2 separate regions of the Homo sapiens genome follow, and region 1 is linked to region 2. Evidence: fine-mapped expression QTL. Tissue or cell type: amygdala. Region 2 holds a variant in brackets; the other region holds the start of a gene. All regions are shown on one strand. Distances are between the middles of the regions.

The links. PIP is the estimated chance that this variant, and not a neighbour inherited with it, causes the effect. A credible set is the group of variants that fine-mapping cannot tell apart.
Region 1: RRM1 starts here. The variant in region 2 is the best candidate, but not a certain one, in a credible set for the expression of RRM1 in amygdala (GTEx, PIP 0.79).

The regions. Positions count from the first base shown.
Region 1 is chr11:4,093,632-4,096,498 of GRCh38, forward strand. RRM1 (ribonucleotide reductase catalytic subunit M1) reads left to right here and starts at 1,168. Exons shown (of 19, transcript NM_001033.5): 1 at 1,168-1,400. The coding sequence starts at 1,382. RefSeq lists enhancers at 798-867, 928-1,397.
Region 2 is chr11:3,844,952-3,847,859 of GRCh38, forward strand. No RefSeq gene overlaps it. Among named protein-coding and RNA genes, the nearest start is that of RHOG, 5.4 kb to the left of the region's middle. The variant A/C (reference allele first, on the strand shown) is at 1,438.

The DNA.
Region 1 (2,867 bases), 250 kb after region 2:
AAGCGATTCTTCTGCCTCAGCCTCCTGAGTAGCTGGGATTACAGGCGCGTGCTACCATGCCTGGCTACTTTTTGTATTTTTAGCAGCGGGGGGGTTTCACCACGTTGGTTAGGCTGGTCTCGAACTCCTGACCTCGTGATCTGCCCGCCTTGGCCTCCCATAGTGCTGGGATTACAGGAGTGAAGCACCGCGCTGGCCTACTTTTTCTATTTTTTGTAGAAATGGGGTCTCACTATGTTGCCCAGGCTTATCTCAACACCTGGCCTCACATGATGCTCCCGCCTTAGCCTCCCAAAATGCTGCAATTACAGGCTCACTTACGACTTTCCATGATTTTTGAAATTACTTCACAGGGAGCCTGGGCAGCTTCTGGAGGGCAGTGAGAAACCAACGAAAAGGCTTTAGGGAAAAGATGCCACAGATGAAATTTCATAAAGATCGCTTTGGGTAGCCCAAATCAGAAGCTTCTACACCAGCCTTACATATTACGGTTCTCATCTATTCTTATTCTCCACTCTAAGTCACCAAGTCCATCCTACCTCCACAAGGCAAATACCCTGTCTCTGCCACCATCCACTGAAGAACCCTAAAAGCAAATGGGTACTGACCCTGCCCTGCTTAAAATTCTCTCAGGGCTCTGATTTGCGTCAGGATAAAATCCAAACGCCATCGGCCTTGCGCGGTTTTCTTCCAGTTCCAGAGTGTCAGTCCTCTGGCCGATCTAAAAGCCCTGGGGCTCCAAGCTGCCCACGGCTGTGGAGCCTGGGCTGGAGCCCACAGCGGACGGCAGTGTTAGTATTATTATAATAAATGTCAGAGCAAGAAAAACGTTCCCGCCGGTTAGGTTTTGTTATTTCAAAAATAAATTAACCGCCTTTCCTCCGGCGGAGACGCGCAGGTGAGAGGGCGGCGCCTGACCCAGCGGGCTCTAGGTGCTACGCCAGGGCCCCGAGGGTCCCGAACTCGGCTTGCCCACACAAAACATGGTAGCAGGAGAGCAGCATTTCCGCCGGGCATGTCCATATCCAATGGGGCCCATGGGAGAGGCGTAGTCTTCTGGGTCTTGCCCAGACTCAACATGGCGGCTACACGTCGCCTGTCAGTCTGTGAAGCCTACCCCGGGCGTGGGCCGCAGCGTCGAGTAACGTCATTCGAACCCCGTCGCGCCCCTTTGTGCGTCACGGGTGGCGGGCGCGGGAAGGGGATTTGGATTGTTGCGCCTCTGCTCTGAAGAAAGTGCTGTCTGGCTCCAACTCCAGTTCTTTCCCCTGAGCAGCGCCTGGAACCTAACCCTTCCCACTCTGTCACCTTCTCGATCCCGCCGGCGCTTTAGAGCCGCAGTCCAGTCTTGGATCCTTCAGAGCCTCAGCCACTAGCTGCGATGCATGTGATCAAGCGAGGTGAGGGGGGGACGAGGTGGGCGAGAAGGAAGGTGAGGGGATGCGGGCTGCCGCCGCCGGAGCTGATGCCCAGACCGCCCGCCCGCCTTCGCTGCTTCCCGCCTTTCCCGCATTTCCCGCCGCGGCCTTCCGCCCTGTCAGCCCGCTCGGCCTTCTGTCTTCAGTCAGCCTGCCCCGAACCTCCTTCGGGCCTTCAGGCTGCGCCCCCTCGGCTTTGTCATCCTGCCGCCTTTCAAAAGGATAACACTTACCCCGTATCGAGTAGTGACTGCGTACGCCGAGCACTTGCCAGGCACTATTTTATTCCTCCCTGCAAGCCTCTGAGAGATGATTAGCTTATTACAGATGAGGAAACTGACGCTCAGAGCGAGGTGTCGCCGACTGACCCAAAGTCACCCATAGGTGACAATACGGTTTGATTTGAAAACCGTGGGGTTGGTGAGCTGTCTTAGGCACAGGGTCGGGGGGCAGCTAGGAAAGAAGGAGGGGGCCTCTCTACCCTCCGTAGGCACTTGTCAGTTTACTGATCTCTTTTGTGGGGTGAGGATAGGAGTGTGGCGTGGAAAAAACAGATCCCAGACAGACAGCACCCTCGAGTTCCTTTCCCTTCATGGGAAGAGATGCTGAATCAGAGAAGGGTGGCTGAGACATCTTCTGACAAGATGGGGACTGGGAAGAGTCAGGAACTCGTATTCTTTCTCAACAGTTCTTTTTCATTAGACTTGCCAAGTGCCCGCTTTGTGCCCAGCCCTTTGCTTGGCTTTGTGAGATTGTAGGAGGAGACAGTCCCTGCCTTGGGAACAGGCTTCATCGGGTTGGAAAAACAAGAGCAACATACTTTTAACAACCGCATGAGATACGTATGAACAAGTTTTGAGTTGAACCTACTTGCCTTTGTTAAAGCAATACAATGATTTCAAAATTGTAGGCACTTAGTAAATACTGGTTAATCGACTGGTTGTTTCTATTTTGTCCTCTAGGCTGTGAACATTTCAAAGATGGAGACTTGTTTGAGACAGAGTCTTGCTCTGTCACCCAGGATGGAATGCAGTGGTGTAATCATAGCTTACTGTAACCTTGAAGTCCTGGGCTCAAGCGATGCTCTTGCCTCAGCCTCTCAAGTAGCTGGGACTATAGGCATGCACCACCATGAGTGGCTAATTTTTAAAAATTTCTGGTAGTAAAGGAGTCTTGCTGTGTTTCCCAGTCTGGCCTTGAATTCCTGGCCTCAAACCATCCTCCCTTCCTTGGCTTCCCAAAGTGCTGGGAATACAAGCAAGATGGAGACTTTTCTGTTCACGTTTAGCACAGGACCTGACATGAACAGATTCTTAAAGAATGAATGAAAATAGTTGTATCAAAATGTAGGACACGATGAATGCTGTGAATAAGCAGGTAGTTGATTTGGTTTAACTACAGCCAATGTCCAGATTGGTTTAACTACAGACAAGAGTTGGAAAGGTGGAC
Region 2 (2,908 bases):
ACTCTCTCACTAGCTTTCCCTGAATAGGTGAGTTCTTGGTAGGTGGTGTGCATGTATGCTTACAAGCAGCTGAGAGACAAGGACATTGAACCTGGACATTTAGAAGTGAGATAATATGAAAGCACTTGGTGGGGTAGAATAGAGATCACAGACAGGTTTTGGAGACAGATTAGGATGGTTGTAACACAGTATGGCCTTTGATTAGTCATATGAGATCTCCCATATTCATAAATATTCAATGTATATTTATTGAAAATCTTCTTGGTGCCAGACATAGTGTTACATGCCAATCATGAAGTAGAGAAAACTGCCCTGATATAACTGGTAAGGGAGATAGACCTTAAACAGGTAATCATACAAAAGTAGAGTGCTGCTGGGCATGGTGGTGTTTGTCTCCAGTTCTAGTTCCTCAGGGGGATAAGGCAGGAAGATTGCTTGAGCCCAAGAGTTTCAGACCAGCCTGGGCAACATAGCAAGAACATTTCTCCAGAAAAAAAAGTACAGAATACTGTAAGAGCATATAACAGAGCCAACTTCTCAGTCTTAGTTTCATTTTAAAATGGGAATGGCTGGGCGTGGTGGCTCATGCCTCTATTCCTAGCACTTTGAGAGGCCAAGGTGGGACAATCACTTGAGCCCAGGAATTTGTAACCAGCCTAGGCAATCATAGCAAGACCCCATCTGCATACACACACAAAAATTAGCTGGGCATAGTGGCACATGCCTGTAGTCCCAGTTACTTGCTAGGCTGAGGTGGGAGGATCACTTGAGTCTAGGTGTTTGAGGTTGCAGAGAGCTATGATCATGCCACTGCACTACAGTCTGGGTGACAGAGTGAGATCCTGTCTCTAAAAACTAACAAATAAAAAACAATAAAATGGGACTGGCAAGTGCTGCATGAGATTGTGAGTATTAAACGACATAATGCATGTGGAGCCCTCGTAAATTGCCCTAGGGTACAGCAAATAAACATTAGTTAATTTCTCCACACTCCCTTGATGTTTTCAGGTATCCCCCCGCCCTTGGTTAATTCTTCCCTCTCTCTCAATGTCAAAATGCTAAAGCTGACTAGTTTCCCTGAGAGAGGAGGGGACAGAGAGTGAGAGGAGAAAGGCCCTGAACTGATCTCACCAGTGCCCTGAGGATTCCAAAGGGGTCTTCCCAGCCTATTCCTCACTGAACTCCAGCTCCAGGAGCTCACCAGTGATCCACAGGGGTCTTGGCTTAGCCCCAGTCCCAGCCCCTTTAGGTTACCCTTAAATCTGAATTCTCTTTTGCCTCTGCTGTGGCTCCAGGGGACTCAGCCTTCTTGGGGCTCCTCTTGATCCTTTGGTCTTCCCTCTCTCAGCCAGCCTCAGGAGTAGAACACAGTTTCCTCTTCATTATTTCTTTTTTTTTTTTGAGACAGAGTCACCCAGGCTGGAGTGCTGTGGCACG[A/C]TCTCTGCTCACTGCAACCTCTGCCTCCTAGATTCAAGCAATTCTCCTGCCTCAGCCTCCTGATTAGCTGGAATTACAGGCATGCACCACCACGCCCAGCTAACTTTTTCTATTTTTAGTAGAGACAGGGTTTCACCATGTTGGCCAGGCTGGTCTCGAACTCCCGACCTCAGGTGATCCGCCCACCTGGGCCTCCCAAAGTGCTGGGATTACAGGCGTGAGCCACCGTGCGTGGCCTTTATTTTATTTTTTATTTTTTGAGATGGAATTTTGGCCTGTAGCCCAGGTTGGAGTGCAATGGCACGATCTCAGCTCACTGCAGCCTCCACCTCCCGGGTTCCAACGATCCTCCTACCTCAACCTCCTAAGTAGCTGAGATTACAGTTGCCTGCCACCCGCCTGGCTACTTTTTTGTATTTTTAGTAGAGATGGGGTTTCACCATGTTGGCAAGGCTGGTCTTGAACTCCTAACCTCAAGTGATCCACCTGCTTCGGCCTCCCAAAGTGCTGGGATTACAGGCATGAGCCCCTGTGACTGGCCTCCTTTTCATTACTCCTCTTTATTGCTGCCCCCCAAAACAAGTCCAATATCCCATTTTGTGGGCTTTGATGGGCCAGACAGGAGACAGCAGAAAGAACTAAAAAGAGGTGACAAATTAAACAAAGTTCTAGAGTCACAACCTCTGATCTTTTTTCTTTTTTTATTTTTTTTCTTTTGTTTTGGAGATGGAGTCATGCTCTGTCGCCTAGGCTGGAGTGCAGTGGCGCAGTCTCGACTCACTGCAACCTCCACCTCCCAGGTTCAAGCCATTCTCCTGCCTCAGCCTCCCGAGTAGCTGGGACTACAGACGAGCACCACCACGACGGCTAATTTTTGTATTTTTAGTAGAGATGGGGTTTCACCATGTTGGCCAGGCTGGTCTTGAACTCTTGACCTCAAGTGATCTGCCTGCCTCAGCCTCCCAAAGTGCTGGGATTACAGGCGTGAGCCACCACATCTGGCCAATCTTTTGTTCTTGACTCTCTCAAGGAACTAAATGGATGAAGGGTGTGTGGACAATGGCCATGCCCTATTTTCCAAGAGGGTCCCTTCTCCCAGGCAGGCAGAACAATAGTTGTCCCGTTAGCCTCCAGGACAGCTTTGCATCTTTGACATTTTCTAAGCCCAGTGGTAGTACCCACATCATCTGGCATAATGCCCCTCTGGGAAAGTTCTCCTTCCTCAGTCCTGGTATTCTAAGAGCAACCCAACTATAGCTGCCCAGTTGATTCGGGATTCCCTGGGGAAATTTTCCCCAATTCTCATCTTTGCCATTTACTTGCTGTGTGATCCTGGAGAAGTTGCTGAATAATAATTTAGGAAAACAACTTAGATATGTTTTACATATGCTTTACACGTATTAACTCAATAAATATAACAAGTCTATAAGGCAGGTAATATTATTTCAATTTTACAGATAAGAATACTCAC